Regions from separate parts of the Homo sapiens genome. Here regions 2, 3 and 4 are each linked to region 1. The links come from fine-mapping of genetic effects on gene expression. A gene starts in region 1. Each other region holds a variant in brackets. All regions are shown on one strand. Distances are from middle to middle. Region 1 holds the start of ADIPOR2 (adiponectin receptor 2). Region 2 overlaps ADIPOR2 (adiponectin receptor 2). Region 3 has its middle 8.4 kb from the start of MIR3649. Region 4 overlaps ADIPOR2 (adiponectin receptor 2).

The links. PIP is the estimated chance that this variant, and not a neighbour inherited with it, causes the effect.
Region 2: its variant is the best candidate, but not a certain one, in a credible set for the expression of ADIPOR2 in whole blood (TOPMed, PIP 0.58).
Region 3: its variant is the best candidate, but not a certain one, in a credible set for the expression of ADIPOR2 in subcutaneous fat (FUSION, PIP 0.85).
Region 4: its variant is the best candidate, but not a certain one, in a credible set for the expression of ADIPOR2 in skeletal muscle (FUSION, PIP 0.68).

Annotation. Positions count from the first base shown.
Region 1 is chr12:1,688,150-1,693,298 of GRCh38, reverse strand. It overlaps ADIPOR2 (adiponectin receptor 2), which reads right to left and starts at 2,229. Exons shown (of 8, transcript NM_024551.3): 1 at 2,108-2,229. RefSeq lists silencers at 1,927-2,016, 2,037-2,336 and enhancers at 1,835-2,413, 2,497-2,546, 2,567-2,726.
Region 2 is chr12:1,781,536-1,786,684 of GRCh38, reverse strand. It overlaps ADIPOR2 (adiponectin receptor 2), which reads right to left. Exons shown (of 8, transcript NM_024551.3): 7 at 2,612-2,805; 8 at 1-741. The coding sequence ends at 613. Among named protein-coding and RNA genes, the nearest start is that of LRTM2, 36 kb to the left of the region's middle. The variant G/A (reference allele first, on the strand shown) is at 3,035.
Region 3 is chr12:1,666,167-1,671,315 of GRCh38, reverse strand. No RefSeq gene overlaps it. Among named protein-coding and RNA genes, the nearest start is that of MIR3649, 8.4 kb to the right of the region's middle. RefSeq lists an enhancer at 2,153-2,202. The variant C/T (reference allele first, on the strand shown) is at 2,190.
Region 4 is chr12:1,719,937-1,725,085 of GRCh38, reverse strand. All of the region lies in intron 1 of ADIPOR2 (adiponectin receptor 2), which reads right to left. Among named protein-coding and RNA genes, the nearest start is that of ADIPOR2, 31 kb to the right of the region's middle. The variant T/C (reference allele first, on the strand shown) is at 3,006.

The sequences.
Region 1 (5,149 bases):
AAATATAAGGTGTTACAGGCCACATGGCTCTCTGGCACAACTACTCAACTCTGCTGCTGTACCCCAAAAGAAACTACAGACAATACCTAAACGACTGCATATGGCTATGTTCTAATAAAAACTTTTTTCTTCCTCTTTTTTTTAAGACGGAGTTTCGCTCTTGTTGTCCAGACTGGAGTGCAATGGTGCAATCTTGGCTCACTGCAACCTCTACCTCCCGGGTTTAAACGATTCTCCTGCCTCAGCCTCCCGGGCAGCTGGGATAACAAGAGTGCGCCACCACACCCGGCTAATTTTTGTAGTTTTAATAGGGACGGGGTTTCACCATGTTGGCCAAGCTGGTCTCAAACTCCTGATCTCAGGTTATCTGCCCGCCTCGACCTCCCAAAGTGCTGGGATTACCAGCGTGAGCGATCGCACCAGGCCTAATCAAATCTTTATTTACAAAAAGAGGCAACTGGCAGGACTGGGCCTGCAGGCTTTAAAATCTGTCAATCCCTGAAATAAAGAATAAAACAAAATTATTTTCATTTTAGGAAACAAAATGTGATTTATACTAAAAAAAAAAAGTGCACCAGCTAAATTGATACTATTGATAGAAAAAACCATTTATTTATAAATTCATACAAGGAGCCTAGGGATAGAAAAAAAAAACAAACTCTCTTTTAGGCTCTGGAAATCCTACTCCCATTCCTAGTGTCAAGTGAAAAGAGGAAATCTGCTAAGCAGACCAAAGTCTAGATAGGAACGTATACTGGAGGACAGACAGTTACAATCAGAAGTTAAAAGAAATATGCCTTTCACATTTAATTTGCAATTTTTTCAAATTTCATAATTCACCAACAAGCAGCTGCCACATGTGTGGAAATCTTTACTGATGAAATAATTTTAGTTGCAGATCATCACAATCAACACTCTGACAACAAATTTATCAGAACGGATGAAAACATCTAGGAATTACCTAAGAGTCGTTTAAGGAGACATAAGGGTGGCCTTTGATAAGAGGTCACTTCAAACTTTCAGAACTGACAAGACGTATAGCCTCCCCCCAAAAAATAATGCTATGGGTAGATGGATGCTTTTTTCTGAAGGAATTTTTAGCATTTCATTTGGAAAAGTTCTGTGATCAAATAATGCTAAATGTTATGACAGCTTTCTTGGCGTTTAAAGGGATTCTCTGGGTGAGGGGAAGGGGTGATAAAAAAAAAAAAAGTCTGCTTTTGGAACAGAAATGGGGGACAATAACCAAGGCTCAGAAACCCAGAGTCAAAAAATTAAAAGAACATCTTATTTTAAAAAAAAAGTCAACAACCTGCAATGAAGTCACCGTACCCCCATAAAATCCCAACTGTGCATTTAAATCTTTCTACCAAAATTCACTTTTGGACCATCTTATGAAGTTGTCAAAATTTCAGAGGCAAACGCTTAAATCAAGATCAAAAGCCAGGAGGAAAAAAGAGCTAACAGTTTCCAACCCAAACTCTCTCCGAGCCCCCTAAAAACTGATTTATAACCCTGTCATCGGTAATTTTAGAAGAAGCGAACACTGACGGACGGGGGCTTGGGAAAACAGGACTCCAGGTACCAAGCAGGCTGCCTGACGCGCCACCTGAAAAAGGTGAGGGAACTCTTCCCCACCCCAGTCACTGTGAAAGTAGCGCTGAGAGAGCCCATCCCAAGCCTCCACCAAACAAATTCCTAGAAGTGATAAAAACAGACAAGAGACGAAGAGGGGCGGGCAGATCCTCTCCGCGGGCAGGGAGCTGGAGCAACTGCACCCGAAGGTGAGCAGAGGGCAGCAGGCTCCGACCCTCCGCCGCGAAAGGCGAGGCGAGGGGAACAGCGGGCGCCGGACTCCTCCGACAGCGGTCGCAAGGAGGGCGGCTCCAGGTCCCCACACGGCCGACCCTCAGGCCAAGGCGCGCCGGGCGGCAGGTCAGAGTTAGGAATCAAGTTGCGGGCCGGGCCGAGAGCGCGCTCTCCCGCCCGCGCCAGGGACATTCGCCCCTCAGCTCTCACCTCCCCCCGACCCCAAGCTCTCCCTCTGCGCCCAGGAAACGGCGCCCACACTCCAGAGACCCTCACCCGGAGCCCGTCGCCGCCTCACCGCGTGTCTCGGACTTCTTGGGAGCCACCGCTGAGGGGAGGGGGGAGGAGGGGGGAACGGAGGAGGGAGGGGGCCAAGCCCGGTGTAGCCGCCGCCGCTGCCGCCGCCGCGATGCCGCTTCTGGAATCGCGCTCTCGCCGCCGCGACAGCGACCGCCGCCGCCGCGTCTCCCCGCCCCCACGACCGCACGTCGCCGTGACGCGCATCGCACGAGGCGGTTCGAGCCAATAAGACCACACGCCGTGCGCAGCCGCGCTGTCCTAAACCGGAAGCCGCCCCTCTGACCGCTCTAAAACCTGGGTGCATCGTGGGAGCTGTGGTTCGGCCAGGAACTTAGCGAAAACTATACTGGGTGTTGAGGGCCGGAGGAGCGTGCGCTCCTTAGGCGCTCACACAACTCCTCGGAGTTTTTTCTCCCACCGAAAAAGGAAGCAATTTGGAGCTGAGGAGGAGGGGGCCGCCCCGGCTCGCGGATGCTTTTCGCAGTCTCTATGGATACTGGCTACACACTTTGGGCAAGAGCCAGAATTTGAGGATTTAGGCTGGATCGTGTGTCTCTGCCAAGGGCTGATAGGATGCTGAGCGTCGTCTGTGAAGACTGCGGAAAGAAATCCAAAAGCATTAGCCCAGTTTTGCCCAGAGCAATAGTGTTTGCCTTTTATTACCTTATTAAAGATTATGATTTATGCTCTACCACTTCTATTTTTTTTAAAACCCAGTCACTCTTAAAATACATATAATTCAGAGCGATTTTTAAAATGATGTTAATGTAATGGTATATCAGAACCTACTTAAGCACTAAATACCTGCGTCCATTTACCCAGAATGAGTAAGTAATTTTCCACAAGTCATCTTTACGTTGAGTTCTAACTTCTTAGAAGCCAAGAACAGATTTGGTTACGTACTTATTCTATAAGAAAAGTGAATATAAGAGTTAGTCTGCGTAGAAAAATAGTTCTTTACATTCAGTAGGAGGGGGAATTTATCACATTCTTAAGGCGTAAATGCCTTAACTATCAAAATTCTTGTTATTGACTAAAGGAAATCCATACGATTTAGGGAAAGTCTGTGCCCACGGCTTACTGTCCTTACCTTTGGACCACAGCAAGAGATAACAAAGGGTGCAGGGAAAAGCTGACAGGTCTTGAGGGAGCTGGAGTCGGATATATGACGAAAAAAACAAAAATACAGAAGTCTTCATTATGGAAATGTAAGTTTTAAAAAGTAAAGCTACTAAAATCACAAAGAACATGATTAAGATGGCAATAATACAGAACTAAGGCCCACTCATTTAAGCTTGAAAGAGATAAAACTAGTAGAAATTAAAATTAGGAAATAAATGTTAAAGGAACTAATTTCCTCCAAGGAGTGGTTTACATTGAAAATATAATTTTTTTAAGTTTACATAATTTGTGAAAGACATAATAATAATGACTTCTATGTTCCCAGGTAAAGATGTAAAGCTTTTGAGGTTGAAATCAAGGAAGACAATTGTACACCTCCTCAGCACATCAGAAACAATACAGGCATTTCTGGATTGTGAATTTGACCCGTTATACCAACTCACATAGAACAGAGATAAGAAGTATAAGATTCTTAGGCTTAATAAAGAGTCTACTAAAGGTGACAGAACTAGAGCGAAAAAGATAATTTTCTTAAAAAGAGATTCTTCAAAGATCTCCAATCTTTCCTGCATCCCTTTCTCTTAAAGACTGGTTTCCAGGCCAAGCGTGGTGGCTCACACCTGTAATCCTAGCACTTTGGGAGGCCGAGATGGGCAGATCACTTGAGGTCAGGAGTTCAAAACCAGCCTGGCCAACATGGCGAAACCCCGTCTCTACAAAAATACAAAAAATTAGCCAAGCATGGTCGCGCGTGCCTGTAATCCCAGGTACTCTGGAGGCTGAGGCAGGAGAATCACTTGAACCTGAGAGGCAGAGGTTGCAGTGAGCTGAGACCGTGCCACTGCACTCCAGCCTGTGTGACAGAGCAAGACTCTGTCTCAAAAAAAAAAAAAAAAAAGATTCTGGTTTGACAAAACGAAGGGCTTTAAGAAGCTACCTCTGGAACAGTTCACCGTGTGCTGAACCAGATGAAAGACAGACTTACCATTTCCCTAAAGTTTCACATCTTGTTCTCGGTTACCTTGATCCCATTCACATATCACTACTGCCAGTTCCTGATGCTTATATAGTGATGAAACAAACCACATCATTTCCTCAAAATACCCACACCTCCTTAACTATTGAGGATGTTGCCACTGTCCCTGACCTGAGCACCTGAGGAACATTCCCCTGATCCCCACATCCATAAGGCTGGCTTCACCCTTAACCCTTATCTAAATGTCACCATTAAATATTCCAAAGCAGAATTTTCAGGCCCTCTCCCTGACCATACTTCAGTTACTAAACTTTATATATTGTCTTCTGATTAGCTGTCCAAAAAACAAGAAAAACTCAGTAAAATTCTCTAACCTCCAGCATCAGCTGCGTATCTTAGAATTTCTGTTCTCTCCATTCTTGGGGTATCACACTACTCCACAGGAGGGTAGAGCCCTTTATCTTCTGCAGCACCAAAAAAAGATTCCCTTCCACCCCTATCCCACATGCCAGTCACCAGTGACCCAACAGTACCCTGTGGCTCAACTAGTCTGATGTAGTCATCTCTGCAATTATCAGATGTTATTGAAAAGGATGGCGCATCACTAGGTGAGTCACATCCATAATCCAGTTGTGGCTCCAGTGACACTATAGTATATTGCTGACATGATGGACAGAGTTAAACTCCATTGTGATATCCAAGGCAATAGCCAATGAGATTCGCATATGTATCTAAGGCATGGTAGTGCGCACCTGTAGTCCCAGCTACTCCAGAGGCCAAGGCTGGAGGATCACTGGGCTCAGGAGTTCCAGGCTGCAGTGAGCTATGATGGCACCACTGCACTCCAGCCTGGGCAACAGAGTGAGACCCCATCTCTAAAAAAAAAAAAAAAAAGAAGAAGAAGAATATGTATCTAAAGCTAAAAGCAAATGAACGTTCAGC
Region 2 (5,149 bases), 93 kb before region 1:
GTCACTTTTTGTGCAAAATTCAAACAGTGTGTGGTACTTGCATGTTTCATTCTATACAAAAATTCTCCCTCCCTCCCTTACCCCTATGTTTTAAACATTTATATAAAGTCTTATTTAAACAGTTAGAAATCTTATTTACATTAATTTCTTTGTTCTCCCAAAAGAGCATTTAAAATCACACTCCCACCCCTTATCGGATATAAATGTTCACTTAAATTGGTTTGTATTATTGTCATAGAGAGAGAGAAAGGGAGAAGAAAGAACCACCAGCTAAACTGTTTCGCCATCTTCTACAAATAAATATGATATGGATCAGAAGCCAGTTTGCCAAGGGTCTTGCAGAGCCCGCAATCAGTAGATCCCAAGAATAAGCCAGGGTTTGGGCTATGTCTCCTTTTCTCCCAATTGATGCACTCCATCCTTTGAGGTATGATTTATTTTTGTTTTTCTCTTCTCAGTCATGTACCACGCAGAGCCACTGGGCCGTCACAAAGCCCACGAGGCTGTCAAAGTTTTGGGGCTCCTCTGGTACTGGCATCAGTAGCCAGCAGGGAGGCCCGCAAGTGCCGCAGGCCCTGGTTTAGGGTCATAGTCCCTGGAGACTGGTAGGTATCACAGTGCATCCTCTTCACTGCAGCCCCCGCCGATCATGAAACGAAACTCCTGGAGGTTTGAGACACCATGGAAGTGAACAAAAGCTCCAGCAACCACAAAGATATGAAACAGCTGATGAGAGTGAAACTGGAGGGGAAAAAAGAAGAGAAGGGGGTAGAGAAACCCATACATTATTAAGACTGCTAAAGATTCTTAGGATCGTTTAATCCTGGTTTATGCTGAGCAGAAGGCAGGGAATGGATGTGACAGAGCTCAAATTCAAGGCGTCCACAGATCCTGGAACATCCATTAGGTGTAACACATTCTGCTGAGCTGAAAGCCAGCTGTTCCCAAAGAAACCAAGGTGCTGCCACTAAGCTCTACACATAAAAATCTACAAACTTAACACTGAAACCAGTGGCAAATGACACACAGACTCTCTTGCTAAAGTGGCAAATGACACACAGACTCTCTTGCTAACAGGCCACAAAGGTCCCAAGGATCCCTTGACACCTAGCCATGGGCTATGATTACACATACAGTCCTTTTCCTACTCACTGCTGATGGACATTTTGTCATGGACAAGAGGACTAGAGCTATGGTCATTTAAATGTTGCTCTCTGTTAGAAAAACTAAAGAGGCTTCCAGGATGGTGTGTGGAATGTCACAACATATGGTCCCCAGAGTTTCCTTCAGTGCTACGATTCTCAAATTTCATGAACTACATAATGTGTCAAAAACTAAGCAAACAGGCCCTTTTACTTCTCAAGTCAGAAGCTGGTCTACAAGCAAGTGACATTATTTCTGATTTTACCTGTTCTGTTGAATGCTATTCCACATCTCAAGAAGGGTAATCAATTGCTCGCTGCACTTCAAAAATTACACTATTCTGTCATTATAATCTCAAAATGAAAAAGTACAGTGGCAAAGCAGTATTTATCAAGAGAAAAACACTGATTTTAGAAGCAAAAACTAGAAGAAATCAAGTCACATCCCAAGAGATGTTTCCTAGGAAACCAAAGGGGATTAATTTCCCCCAAAGAAAGGGGATAAAGGGCAAAAACCCCTCCATACCAATGTTAAAATGATGATGATGAATCAGAAAGATAAATTAGCTAATTTGAAGCTAGAAAGATTGCTTAAGTTCAAGATCATCTTCATTTTACAGATAGCTAAACTAAACTTTAAAGAGATGAGATCATCAGGTTAGTCTATAATAATCAGCAATAGGCTGAGGAACAGAATTACAAAGGTCAGATTTCACATTAAGCGTATTTCCAATGTTGTCTTGTTGAAAATATTTCAGGCCCTCTTTGGTTATAAGTTTTTCTATCTATATCAGTCCTTATATTTTCTTTTCCCTCTTCTCTTTCCTCCTCTCTTACCAATGACCACAATCCAGTTCAATCCAGTTCCCTCTTCTTCACAATCCCTCTTCTTCCACCAGACATACATACACTCAGTCTCCCATTACAAATCACTAAATTTCGGTATAAAAAAAGACCCTGATAGAAATCTGGTCCTAAAAAGGGCTCTGGTGAAAATCTGGTCTATCATCCTCATTTCATAAATAAGGAAACTGAGACAAAGAATGGCAAAATGACTTGCCATTGTCAAAAAGAGCACAGATTCTGATATTAAAACTAGCCTAATTCAAATTCCTGTTCTACCACTTAAATAGCCACATGGCTTGGACAAGTGGCCTCACCTCCCTAAGCCTTAGTCTCCTGCTTTGTAAAATGAAGACATTAACAAGAGTTATCATACCACATAGGGCTAATGTATGTAATGAGGTAATCCGTGCAAAGCACTCTGTACCATGCTGAGCACCAAGGAAGTGCTCACTAAATGTTAGTTATTATTGTACTTATTGTCCAGAGAAAGCTCAATAGGGAGTTAGGACCAGGATACAACTCTCCTGACTTTGTGTCTAAAACTTTTTCTATTGCATCACTCTGCAGGATGCCAATAACTCATGAGCAGATACCTACACACTCAGTCACCCCGACATACTTACCCAGATGTCACATTTGCCAGGGAAAAAGCGTTCGGGGATCCGGGCAGCATACAGGGCAGCTCCTGTGATGTAGAGGCTGGCCATCAGCATCAACCAGCCTATCTGCCCTATGGTGGCGGCCTTAAGGAACCCCTCCGAGATGACATAGTGCAAGGTAGGAATGATTCCACTCAGGCCTAGGCCCAAAAACACTCCTAGGAGTCACAAGAAGAGAGTAAAGTAATGCAGAAGAGAAACAAAGAGCCAGAAGTCAGTATTACAGCACAGCACCATTAACTCTGTAAACTGAATATTTCAAAGTAGCATATAAAATTAGCTTCCAGTTTTAAAGGAAAAAGAAGGTTCTTCAAACTCTGGGACACTGTCACACAAGACAACACAGCTATGTTCTAAAGATTTACAAATGCAAGGAGCCAGCCGGGT[G/A]CAGTGGCTCACACCTGTAATCCCAGCACTTTGGGACCAGCCTGGCTAACAGGGTGAAACCCCATTTCTACTAAACATCCAAAAAGTAGCCAGGCGTGGTAGCGCACTCCTGTAATCCCAGCTACTCGGGAGGCTGAGGCAGGAGAATCACCTGAAGCCGGGGGCAGAGGCTGCAGTGAGCCGAGATCACGCCATTGCACCCCAGCTTGGGCAACAGGAGTGAAACTCCGTCTCAAAAAAAAAAAAAAAAAGCAATGAGCCTCACTAAGAGAGGCTTAGCTTAGTAAGTCAGCAGTCTTCAAGGGTTTTGAATTAATGTTGCTAAATGTTTTCGGAAAGGACAGCTCCAGGAGTTTATTTAAACTGTCCTAGCCTGTCCTTCTACAGACACAGGTTACAATACAAGCAATTTTACGTATCCCATCTTCTCTTTGAAGCAGCAGGCGTTGTTGGGGTGGAGAGGCGATGAATGATCACATCACCTGGCATCACCTATTTTTAATAGGAATCTAAGGCTGGGCGCAGTGGCTCAGCTCACACCTGTAATCCCAGCACTTTGGGAGGCCGAGGCAGGCAGATCACTTGAGGTCAGGAGCCAAGATGGCACCACTGCACTCCAGCCTGGGCTACAAAGCAAGACTCCATCTCAAAAAAAAAAAAAAAAAAAAAAAAAAGAAAGAAAGAAAGAAAAAGAAAAGAAAAGAAAAAAGAAGAAAAAATTTAATCTAAATCTATAACCTATAACTGGGCACTTAAAAATTGTTAAATGCCTTTAACAAATGACCTAATGGGGGTGGGGGATGGGAGAGAATACTATAAGCTCCCAGACCCCTAAATAGCAATCAAGTACAAAAGTCTAGCAAATCACTCAGCCACAGCCCTACTGCCTTACTGCCTCCAGAAGCATCTAATGTTTTTTTAAACTTCTGGATATGACCTAAGTTCTAAGATCAATTAAATGAGTCTCAACCAGCATTTTTTTAAATGAACTAGAATAAAATTTAAAATATCAGACTGTAACATACGTGGAGGATTAAATACTATTTTGTTAAAGTTTTGTAATTTATATATACATGAACTTATGTATAGATACACGTGTTCAGGACTGTAATAGAAAATGTCATGATGGAAAAAAAAATGTGAAGTCCACTGATCTAAATCCACTTTGAAACCCGTGTATCAGCCAAAGCAACACAGGAGCTCCCTGCCTCTGCCAGTAACTGCTCCTACATTTTGACACAGAGTTAACAATGACCCTTGCAAAACAAGCTGTCATTTGGTAAGCTTTCTCAACAGATAAAGAACCTATTACTTGCTTTGGACATTACCAAATAAACTGCTGGTATACAGCAATATATGTAAGCACAGCTATGGGATGCATACTCACAAATAAAATGGACATCTAAAAGAGAAGAGGAAAATGGCAATGCTGCTCTCACAACAGGTAAGAACCAAGCAGACCTAAAGAAAAACTATTTCCTACCTCTGCTCCTCTAAGGAAAGATTTGCTAGACTTTTGCACTATTCACTTTTTCTTTTCCTCTACATGCTAAGCAAAGGCTGCTAATGGTTTCTGCCTATCATTCTCTAAGTCAAAGGCTCAGGAATTTGGTTCTTCTGATGTATGTAAATAACAGAATGCTCAGCTGTACTCAGCAAAGACATTCTTATCTCATGTGCTCAAGCAGGCTTAACACCACTGTACTACTCAAGTACTGTTGAAAGCTGACCCTGACCAATGCTCATTTGCTCATATGAACACAAAAAGGAGGACGGCAGAGTGTTTTAACAGTGGTCACTGACATGAGGTTACTTCTGTGTCTAACCTTCCAGGTACCCCCGGATGATCCAGGGTTTAGATTTTAATACTAAATGGTTTTGGGGGTTTAAGGACGAAAGGAAAAACACTCCTTGTTCATTCTCAGTGGGCACTGAGCTTGACACTGAGTAGGAGACAAGAACATCTCTGCTAATTCCATGTCCTACAAGAAGACTCAGCCAAGGCACTGAGGGGCTTGTGGCTTTCTCTATGATCTCCAGCTAAACAGGCATTATCCTAAATATAAAAAGCCCCTTTATCCCTACATCAGAAGGGAGATATGGTGCCCACTTTAA
Region 3 (5,149 bases), 22 kb after region 1:
AAGATATGAAGTATCACTGCAAAATAGCATGTTAGATAGGGTGGTGGTGTATGAAGTACTAAGTTCCTTGAGCAAGACTCCATCTCAAAAAAAAAAAAAAGTCAGGGTGTGGCAACAGTGTAATTGCTGGTGGCCTGACCATTTATGGCAGGATCTCAGCAGGTATGCAGAGCTACTATTCCGTGGGGAGGGAGTTGATGACAGCTAGTCAAGGTATGACAACTACATTCTAGAAGCTTAGAAAAGTTCCTGCTTTGGTAAGACTTGTTGATGGCACCTGAGCCACAGCAGTGGGGCTTAGGCTGAAGTTTCTGATCCCTGTTGTGGACCTGGGCAAGGGCCTGGTGGTGATGGGGAGCTTGCTTGGTATATGTCCAGCCTTAAAAGCTAGAAAAAGCAACGGCGGGAGCAGTGATGTCTGTGAAGCTGTATTGATAAAGTTGTTTTTTTTTAAAGGTGTAAAAGTAAACACATCTGAATCTCAGGGAAAAGCTACGCTACTTCAACTTCAGGATTCAGTCATTCCTGCTTGTTCAGAACCACAGGGTAAAATGAGCACTGCACTTACAAAGGGCTAATCACAAGCGAGGGCACTGTGGCGACCTTTCACCAGGTGTCAAGGTGTGGCGGCCTCTGTAGACCCATGACTCAGAACACCAGGCCAGGCACCATCTGGGAACACATCTGCGACTTCATATGAAAAAAAGGTGTAATTTAGTTGAAGCAATTAACTTAAAGTTGGTGAGTAAAGCCTTTTCGAATGAGCTGTGAGTGAGTGAGGGGGAGAGGATGCCCGAGGGGCAGTGTGGGGTTGCCTGCAGTGGAAGCGAGGCTGGCACTCTGCTACTGAGTGCCCAGGGAGAAGGAGGGGAGGACGCAGGCCAAGAACCTTTGGCCCCCAAGCAAGGCCTCCAAGGAAAACCAAAGGGCCGAGCTCGAGCTCCCCTTTCCTCCTGGTTTATTCTCTTTCCCTCAGGAGCCTGCCGGACTCCACCCTCAAATTCTCAGCCTGAGAAAGTAATATGATATTGGCACTCACCTCTCCAAATTCTTCCAGAAAGAGAGTCAGATTAGAGTGTGACAGGAGCACAGTACGCTTCTGGTCTGAGCTTTTGGAGGCCATATGACTCTAGAATGAGCCCGCCTGGTTTTTGTGAATGAGTCTAACTAAAATGAGTCCTCTTATTTTTTCACCAGAAAAAAACAAGATGTGTCAAGGGGCTCTTTGGGCTGTGAAAGGGCTGTATCCCAGCAACAGCTCATGATGTTTCTGACAACTTATTAGCATCTATTTGAGGGTGATTAAAAACATAATGTGGGGCCGATTGCGGTGGCTCACGCCTGTAATCCCAGCACTTTGGGAGGCCGACACGGGTGGATCATGAGGTCAGGAGTTTGAGACCAGCCTGGCCAATATAGTGAAACCCTGTCTCTACTAAAAATACAAAAAAAATAGCCTGGCATGGTGGCAGGTGCCTGTAGTCCCAGCTGATCAGGAGGCTGAGGCAGGAGAATCGCTTGAGCCCAGGAGGTGGAGGTTGCAGTGAGCCAAGATCACACCATTACACTCCTGCCTGGGTGACAGAGCGAGACTATCTCAAAAACAAAAAAAAACGAAAAAGCCATAATGTGTAAAGGATTCAAATTGTACTCAATTATTATAATAGCCTACTTCTCCCCATTCCCATTCCTCCTCCCTAAACCAGAGCTCCTGTTTGCCAGGCAAATAAGCTACAACTAAAATAAAAGGTCTTTTTAGACAAGGATCAAGCCAGATTAGGAATATTATAACTAGGCTTTCCAATCAATATCAGGACTTTCCATTTCTCTATCTGAGTCTGAAACTAATTACACTTCCAGGTCGTGGGGCCCCAGGTGCTGCTCTCGTGGCACCACTCGTGGGGCTCTAGGTCCAGAGGACAGTCTCTGCTGGCTGAGGCTGGAGGGACCATCTCATTGGTAGAAGTGGCATAGCATGACTTGGCCACTGGACATCTTGGCTGTCACCCAGACTTATTTCAAAGGCGAGACTAAAATAAAGAGGGCTGATCAGAGTGGGGGCAATCAGAGATTGGGCCATCGCTAGAGTTACAAAAGCAGCGCTGGCTACTGTAGGGCAGCAGCGTCATCTCCTCGAGATAGGACTCCCTCTGCCCCAGTTCTGTTCACCGTCCAAAGACCAGGGCCCT[C/T]CCTGAAGCCCAGCACTTGAGAAATGCTCGCTCTCACGTATTATGACTCTGGCTTTGGAAAGAAATTCAGCAAGGGTACTGGTTGAAAGGTCAAAAAGTGGTGAAATGCCATCTGCCCAAACGGAAGCAAGGGGTCGCTTGGATTGGGTAAAGGTTTCTTTTGTGGTTTTAAGCCGTTGGGTTGTTTTTCGTTTGTTTTTGTTTTGTTAGAAAGCACTGTGTCTGTCTGGAGGTCGAAGGGTCGGGTGGGTGTCTGCAGTGCGGCTTTTCTCCCTTGGCCAGTGGGGAAACAAAGTGGGTTTACTGGCCATTTCCGCTTTGTGTGAAGGAAACCTGAGATTCACTGCCTCCAGCACATGGGAGTTGTCTGTTATTTTTAGTTTAGTTCTGTTGTTGTTATTAGGTGTTTTTAAAACATATGTAAGTGTGTATCAAAGTTGTATTTCACAGTGTTGGCAGAAAATTTACAGGAAAAAGACAGAGGAGGGTTTAGTTGAAGATCAGGAGGAGGTAGTAAGACTGGTTAAATGTCTAGTGAAAGGTTTTAGGCATACCAGGATTGTCAGTCAACTGGGAGGGTAACTCTTTTATTTTTAAAATTGTGGTAAAATATGTATAAAATAACATATACTATTTTAACGATTTTTAAGTAGGCCTGGGCACAGTGGCTGACACCTGTAATCCCAAGCTTTGGGAGGCTGAGATGGGAGGATCATTGGAGGCCAGGAGTTTGAAACCAGCTTGGCCAACATAGCAACTTCATCTCTAAAAAAATAAAAATAAAAATAAAAGGTTTTTTTTTTTTTAATTATCTGGGCATCGTGGCACACTGGGCAAGTAGTTCCAGCTCCTTGGGAGGCCGAGGCAGGAAGATCACTTGAGCCTAGGAGTTCAATGCTATAGTGAGCTCTGATCACACCGCTGCCCTCCAGCCTGTGTGACAGAGCAAGAACCTGTCTCTAAAAAAATAACAATTTTAAAATGCTCAAGTGAACAGTTCTGTGCCATTAAGTGCACTCACATTTTTGTGCCACCATCACCACCATTCATCTACAGAAACTTTCTTTCTTTCCCAACTGAAACTCTGTCCCCATTGAACACTAACGCCCCATCCTGCCCTGCCAGCCACTGGTGGCCACCGTTCTGCTGTCTCTGAATTTGACTATTCGTAGTACCTCATATGAGTGGAATCGTAGAGAGAGTAGTCGTCCTTTGTGACTAGCTCATTTCCCTTAGCGCAACGCCTTCAAAGTTTATTCACGTGGGTAATTCGTTCTTTACGGTTTGTTTTTCATCGTTTGGACCCTCAGTTTTTGTTTCTTGTTGAGGATTTGGTAGTCTCAGATACTGAGGATAGGATTGCAGGCTGAAAGTCTGGCCAGGAGGCTTCCTGATCCTTCTCCTCACCCTAAAATATCTTGGCCACACTGGATATATATTTTTTTCTTTTTGAGATGGAACCTCCCTCTGTTGCCCAGGCTGGAGTGCACTGGCGCAATCATGGCTCACTGCGGCCTCAACCTCCCAGGCTCAAGTGATCTTCCTGCCTCACCCTCCCAAGTATCTGGGACTACAGGCATGCACCACCATATCTGGCTAATTTTTTTTTTACTTCTTGGGAGAGATGGGGGTCTCACTTTGTTGCCCAGCCTGGTCGTGAGCTCCTGGCCTCAAGCGATGCTCCCTCCTCAACCTCCCAAAGTGCTGGGAGTACAGGCATGAGCCACCACGCCTGGCCCACACTGGACATTTCTTAGTGTTTTTTCCTGCCTGGGTCACTACCTACTTGGTGTGTTAATAGCTCTCAAGGCTCTTAGCTTGGCCCACATTGCTTGCTCCTCTGGGCAAACCATGAATATTTCCAAAGCAGACCAGCCTCTCAGGGGACTCTCTGTCTCTGTCTGTCTCTCTCTGCCTCTGTCTCTGTCCGTCTCTGTCTCTCTCTCTCCCTGTTTCCATCTCTGTGTGTCTCTGTCTCTCTGTGTGTGTGTGTCTCCATCTCTGTCTCTGTCTCTCTCTGCCTTTCTCTCCTCCCTCCTCTCAGCATCAGTATTTACCCACTGGCCTCAGGCAAAGGCTTCAGAGAAGGGAAAGCAGCCTTTTCTTTCCCCTTCCCGTCCTCTCAGGCACAGGAGGCATGCCTTCTGTTTGCTTGTTTTTATAATCATTCTTTGTAAGCAGAACATTCAAATGGCAAAATATATAAGCAGTAAGAACGTGCAATGAAAAACCAGTCTCCCCACCCACTTCCTTGTTGCCTTTTGCCACACCAGCCACTGTGACCTTGACTGTCTTTCTAGGGACATTTACACATAAACAAGCTCAGGGGGCCTCTTTTTACACAAAAGATATCATCTTATACCCACCCCCCTGTATCATGCTTTTTGGAAAAAATACATAAAAATAAGAGTGTAATAAATGAAGTCTCCACCAACCAGAATTGATAAAAAACATTTAGTATAGCTGTTTTTTTTCTTTTTTTACATAAAAATAAGTAAAATGCTACAGATGAAGTCTGAAATATTCTGTGGCCTTTGTGGTCAGTCCTGCATCCTTCCTCCCATCCTTAGAGGGGAGCGCTACTGGAAATTATTTACACCCTTTCTGTAATTTTTTATATGTCATATACATACATATATACATCTGTGAACAATATATAGCATCATTTTGCACAATAATCATTTTTAATATCCCTTCCCCCTACTGGCAGGCATTCAGGTTCTTTTAGACTTTGCTCCTCAAATAATGCCGCAGGAAATTTCTTGTGCCGATATCTTTGTGCACATGCGTGAGTGTATCTGTAGGATAATTTTGTAGAGGCGGGCTTACTGGATCAAAAGATATGTGCATTTGATAGTTTCAAAGAAAGGGCACCAATTTTTACTTCCACCAATAATGCATGGAACACCTATTTCTTCACATCTTCTTTCACATACAAATTTATCAAAATTTTTAATTTT
Region 4 (5,149 bases), 32 kb before region 1:
AAAATGTAGGCTTAAAAAATCTGTTTACAGTTTTATACTGCTGTATTGTGTATAGCCCCTCTTTCATAATGACACTTGGGACTGTGATGGTATAGAGTGACTCTTAATAGTCTGCTCCCAGGAATAATATATAATACCTAATAATACCTAACAGTTGTTCAGTCATTATCTGTTAAATGAATGAATGAATACTGAAAGGAGGCAGAAAAGGGAGTGAGTTAGTAAAAATTAGCCAGGAGTGGTGGCGTACACCTGTAGTCCCAGCTACTTGGGAGGCTGTGATGGGAGGATCACTTGAGTCCAGGAAGTCGAGGCTACAGTGAGCCGTGATCGTGCCACCGCATTCCAGCCTGGGCGACAGAGTGAGACCCTGTCACCAGAAAATCAAAACAAAACAAAAAAATTAGCCAGGCATGATGGCATAGTAAAATACACATAACATAAAATTTACCATCTAAATTATCTTTAAGTGCACAGTTAATGTTACTGAGTACATTTATATTGTTGTGTGACCCTTACAACCATCTAGCTCTAGAACTCTACAACTTGCAAAACTGAAACTATACCCGTTAAACAGTAACTCTCCATTCCCTCTTCTCCTCAACCCCTGGCAATTACCATTCTTTCTGTCTCTGTGATTTGTACTACTCTAAGTACCTCATTAAAGTGGAATCATACAGTATTTGTCTTTTTGTGACTGGTTTCACTGGCCAGTTTCACTTAGTGTATTGTTCTCAAGATTCATCCAGGTTGTAGCATGTCAGAATTTCTCTCCTTTGAAAGGTGAAATAAGATTCCACTTTGTGGCCGGGTGCGGTGGCTCACATCTGTAATCCCAGCACTTTGGGAGGCCAAGGCAGGTGGATCACGAGGTCAGGAGTTCAAGACCAGCCTGGCCAACACAGTGAAACCCCGTCTCTACTAAAAATACAAAAAATTAGCTGGGCGTCGTGGCGGGCACCTGTAATCCCAGCCACTAGGGAGGCTGAGGCAGGAGAATCGCTTGAACCCGGGAGGCAGAGGTTGCGGTGAGCCAAGATCACACCATTGCACTTCAGCCCGGGCAACAGTGCAAGACTCTGTCTCCCAAAAAAAAAAAAAGATTCCATTTTGTATGTATACCAGTAACATTTTGCTTATCTGTTCCTCCATTTGGGGACAGCTGGACTACTTCCAGCATTTGTCAATAATGCTGCTATGAGCATGGGTGTAGAAATACCCCTTCAAGACCCTGCTGCTTTCAGTTCTTTTGAGTATATACCCAGAAGTAGAATTGCTGGATCACAGGGTAATTCTATTTTTAATTCTTTGAGGACTCACGTTACTGTTTTCCACGGCTTTTGGAATGATATAGTTTGTAACCTTTCAGGATTGGCTTTTTTGCAGTTTTTTTAAAATTACTTCCACTTTTGTTGTTGTTGTTTTGTTTTGTTTTGTTTTGTTTTTGAGATGGAGTCTTGCTCTGTCACCCAGACTGGAATGCAGTGACACGATCTTGGCTCACTGCAACCTCCACCTCTCGCTTCAAGCAATTCTTCCGACAGTCTCCTGAGTAACTGGGAGTACAGGCACAGGCACCCACCACCACGCCTGGCTAATTTTTTTTTTTTTTTTTTTTTTTTCAGTAGAGACGGGGTTTCACTATGTTGGCCAGGCTCCAATTCCTGACCTCAGGTGATCCACCTGCCTCAGCATCCCAAAGTGCTGGGATTACAGGCATGAGCCACTGTGCCCAGCCCTTCCACATTTTTAGAAGGAATTATTTTTGGGAAGAGCTCCTTTGGGGAGGATTATGAGACCTCATGGAACATGCGAAGGAGACAAGATCATTAAACCAGGGTAAAAATGTTCAATTAAACATGATCCATGTTCGATTCATATGCCATAGATAGCTTTGACAGGTTCTATGTCTTTAACAATCTGCTTACATTCTCTGGGCTCTAATGAGATAGGCTATGATCCAAAATGAACTTCAAGGCCACTACCTACTATATCCTAAAAAGTCATGCACAAAGAAGACATAATGGGGCATTTTAAAGAAAGGAATTTCTATATTTGTGTAACAATTTAGAGCTTGCAAAGAATTTTCACATCTCTCATCTTGTAATCCTTCCAAAAACTCTAAGGTAGATTGGATTTGACCAAGATAATAAAAGTTTAAGGAGCATTTTGGTATAATGAAAAATACTCTGCATCTACAGTCAAAGTGAGTGAGTCCAAATACAGGTTCTACCTGGACTGTCACTTAACTTCCCTAAACTAAGGACTCTCATGTCACAGAAGGAAAAGTATCATCTACCTCAATATTTGTAGAGAGGACTGCGTAGGGTACATAAAATATCTTAAACTTTAGAATGCACTCAAATAATAACTGTATCCAGGCAAGTATAAAAGTAAGATTCGAATCTGGGCCTTACTTGTGGTCACAACCATTTTTCTGCTTCCCTTTTCACAGGAAAATTTCTTAGGAGTCTATTGTCACTGTCTCCATTCCCCAACTTCATATTCTCATTCCATCCTTTACCTGATACTTCTCTACAATCTAGTTTCCATTCCCACTAAGACCACACTTGTCAAGGTCACTTACCAAATCTAGCAGACATACATCAGTTACTCCTAAATATTTATCCCTGGCCCTAAACTCTCACTGAATTCCACAGTACTACTATTACCTACCACCAAGTATGAAATCTCTACATAGATGTCTAATTGGCACCTCAAACTTAACAAAACAGAACTCATGATTGTCCCACCAAACTTGCTCTCCCCTCCAGTCTTATCCATTTCAGTAAACTGCACCACCAATCTTCTAAGTGCTCAAGTCCTAGGATTTGCCTTGATCACATGCAGTCAGCAAGTCCTGTTGATTCAATCTTCAAAACACAGCCCAAATCAACCTATTTTTCTCCACTAATTTACTCTCTGGCCCAAGCCACCACCACCTCTCACCTATACTAATACAGCAGCCTCCAGAGGTCTCCTAAATTCCACCCTTGTTACCCTTA[T/C]CCTCAGAATCCAGTCTTCACACGGCAGCGACAGTAATCTTTTTCAAAAGGCGTTCCCCCTGCTACAGCCCTCCACTGGCTTTCGTTTACACCTAGAAACTCCTTACTCTGGCTTACAAAGCCTTAAATGATTTAGACCCTGACTATCTCTGATCTCATTTTGCACCACTCTACCCCTTGCCCATTACATTCCAGCCACACTGACCTGTCTGCTCCTTAAATACTCCAAGAGCTCAAGGGGCTTTGTGTAACATGGTTCCCTATGGTAGAATGCTCATCCCTCTAATCTTTGCCATGGCTGACTCTTTTGTAGGAAGATCTCAAAGGTTACCTACTCAAAGGATCCTTCCCTGACAATGCAATGTAAAGCAACCCCTCAGTCTCTCCTTATTACATCACCTTTTAGTCTCTTTCATAGCACTTGTCTCTGATATTTTTGTTTACTACTGATCTTTTCCCACTAGACTGAAAGCTCCTGAGAGTAGAGACATTATCTGTCTTCTTTACTCTGTGAACCCTGAAAATTTGAGACAGGTCTCAGTTAATTTAGAAAGTTTATTTTGCAGGCTGGGCACAGTGGCTCACGCCTGTAATCCCAGCACTGTGGCAGGCCAAGGCAAGCGGATCAGTTGAGGTCAGGAATTCAAGACCAGCCTGGCCAACATGGTGAAACCCCATCTGTACTAAAAATACAAGAATTAGCCAGGTGTGGTGGCATGTGCCTGTAATCCCAGCTACTCAGGAGGCTGAGGGAAGAGAATCACTTGAACCCGGGAGGTGGAGGTTGCAGTGAGCCGAGATCGTGCCACTGCACTCCAGCCTGGATGACAGTGAGACTCCACCTCAAAAAAAAAAAAAAAAAAAAAAAAAAAAAAGTTTATTTTATTTTGCCTAGGTTGAGGACGCTCCCATGACACAGCCTCAGGAAGTCCTGACAACATGTGCTCAAGGTGGCCGGGGCAAAGTTTAGTTTTATACATTTCGGGGAGACTTGAGACACCGATCAATATATGTAAGAAGTACATTGGTTTGGTCTGGAAAGGCAGGACAACTTAAAGCAAAGGCAAGAAGACTCAAATCAGGGAGGGAGCTTCCAGGTTAAAGTTAGGTGAGAGACCAATGGCTGCATTTCTGATTAGCCTTTCCAAGGGAGGCAATCAGATATGTATCTATCTCAGTGAGCAGAGGGATGATTTTGAATAGAATGGAAGGCAGGTTAGCCCTAAGCAGTTCCCCACTTGACTTTTTCCTTTAGTTTAGGGATTGAGGGCCCCAAGATTTAATTTCCTTTCACAACTCCTATACAGCAGGGGTCCCCAACCCCTAGGCTACAAGCCAATTCCATAGCCTGTTAGGAACCTGGCCTCACAGCAGGAGGGGCTCAAAAGCTTCATCTGTGTTTACAGCTGCTCCCCACTGCTTGCATTACCACCTGAGCTCCGCCTCCTGTAAAATCAGCGGTGGCATTAGATTCTCATAGAAGCCTGAACCCTATTGTGATCTAGGTTGCACGCTCCTTATGAGAATCTAATGCCTGATGATCTGCCACTGTCTCCCATCACTCCCATATGGGACAGTCTAGCTGTGAAAGAACAAGCTCAGGGCTCCCACTGATTCCACATTATGGTGAGTTATATAATTATTTCATTATATATTACAATGTAGTAATAATAGAAATAAAGTGCACAATAAATGTAATGTGCTTGGATCATCCCAAAACCATCCCCTCCACCCCCTGCCCACCAGTCCATGGAAAAATTGTCTTCCATGAAACCAGTGGTATTCCCAGCACCTAAAATAGTGCCTGGCAAAAGTAAAGTGTATTCAGTAAATATCTGTCAAATAAGTCAACAGGAAACTACTATTCACACATCAAAAATAAGTCAGGGATAGAAATGTCTTTCCCTGACCTCCCCAGGCTTATGATACTAACTCCTTTATTCTTTTCATTTGTTTCTGATATAGCATATGTCACAACTTATTGCATTTATCTGTTTACATGCCTGTCTTCCCTTCTTGAACTATGAAACTTCTTAAGATGGGGAGGCCTTCTTTAGAATTCACTTTGTATCCACAACACCAAGCATGGTCTGGGATGAAAAGAGGACAGACACGGTGGCTCAAGCCTGTAATTCCAACACTTT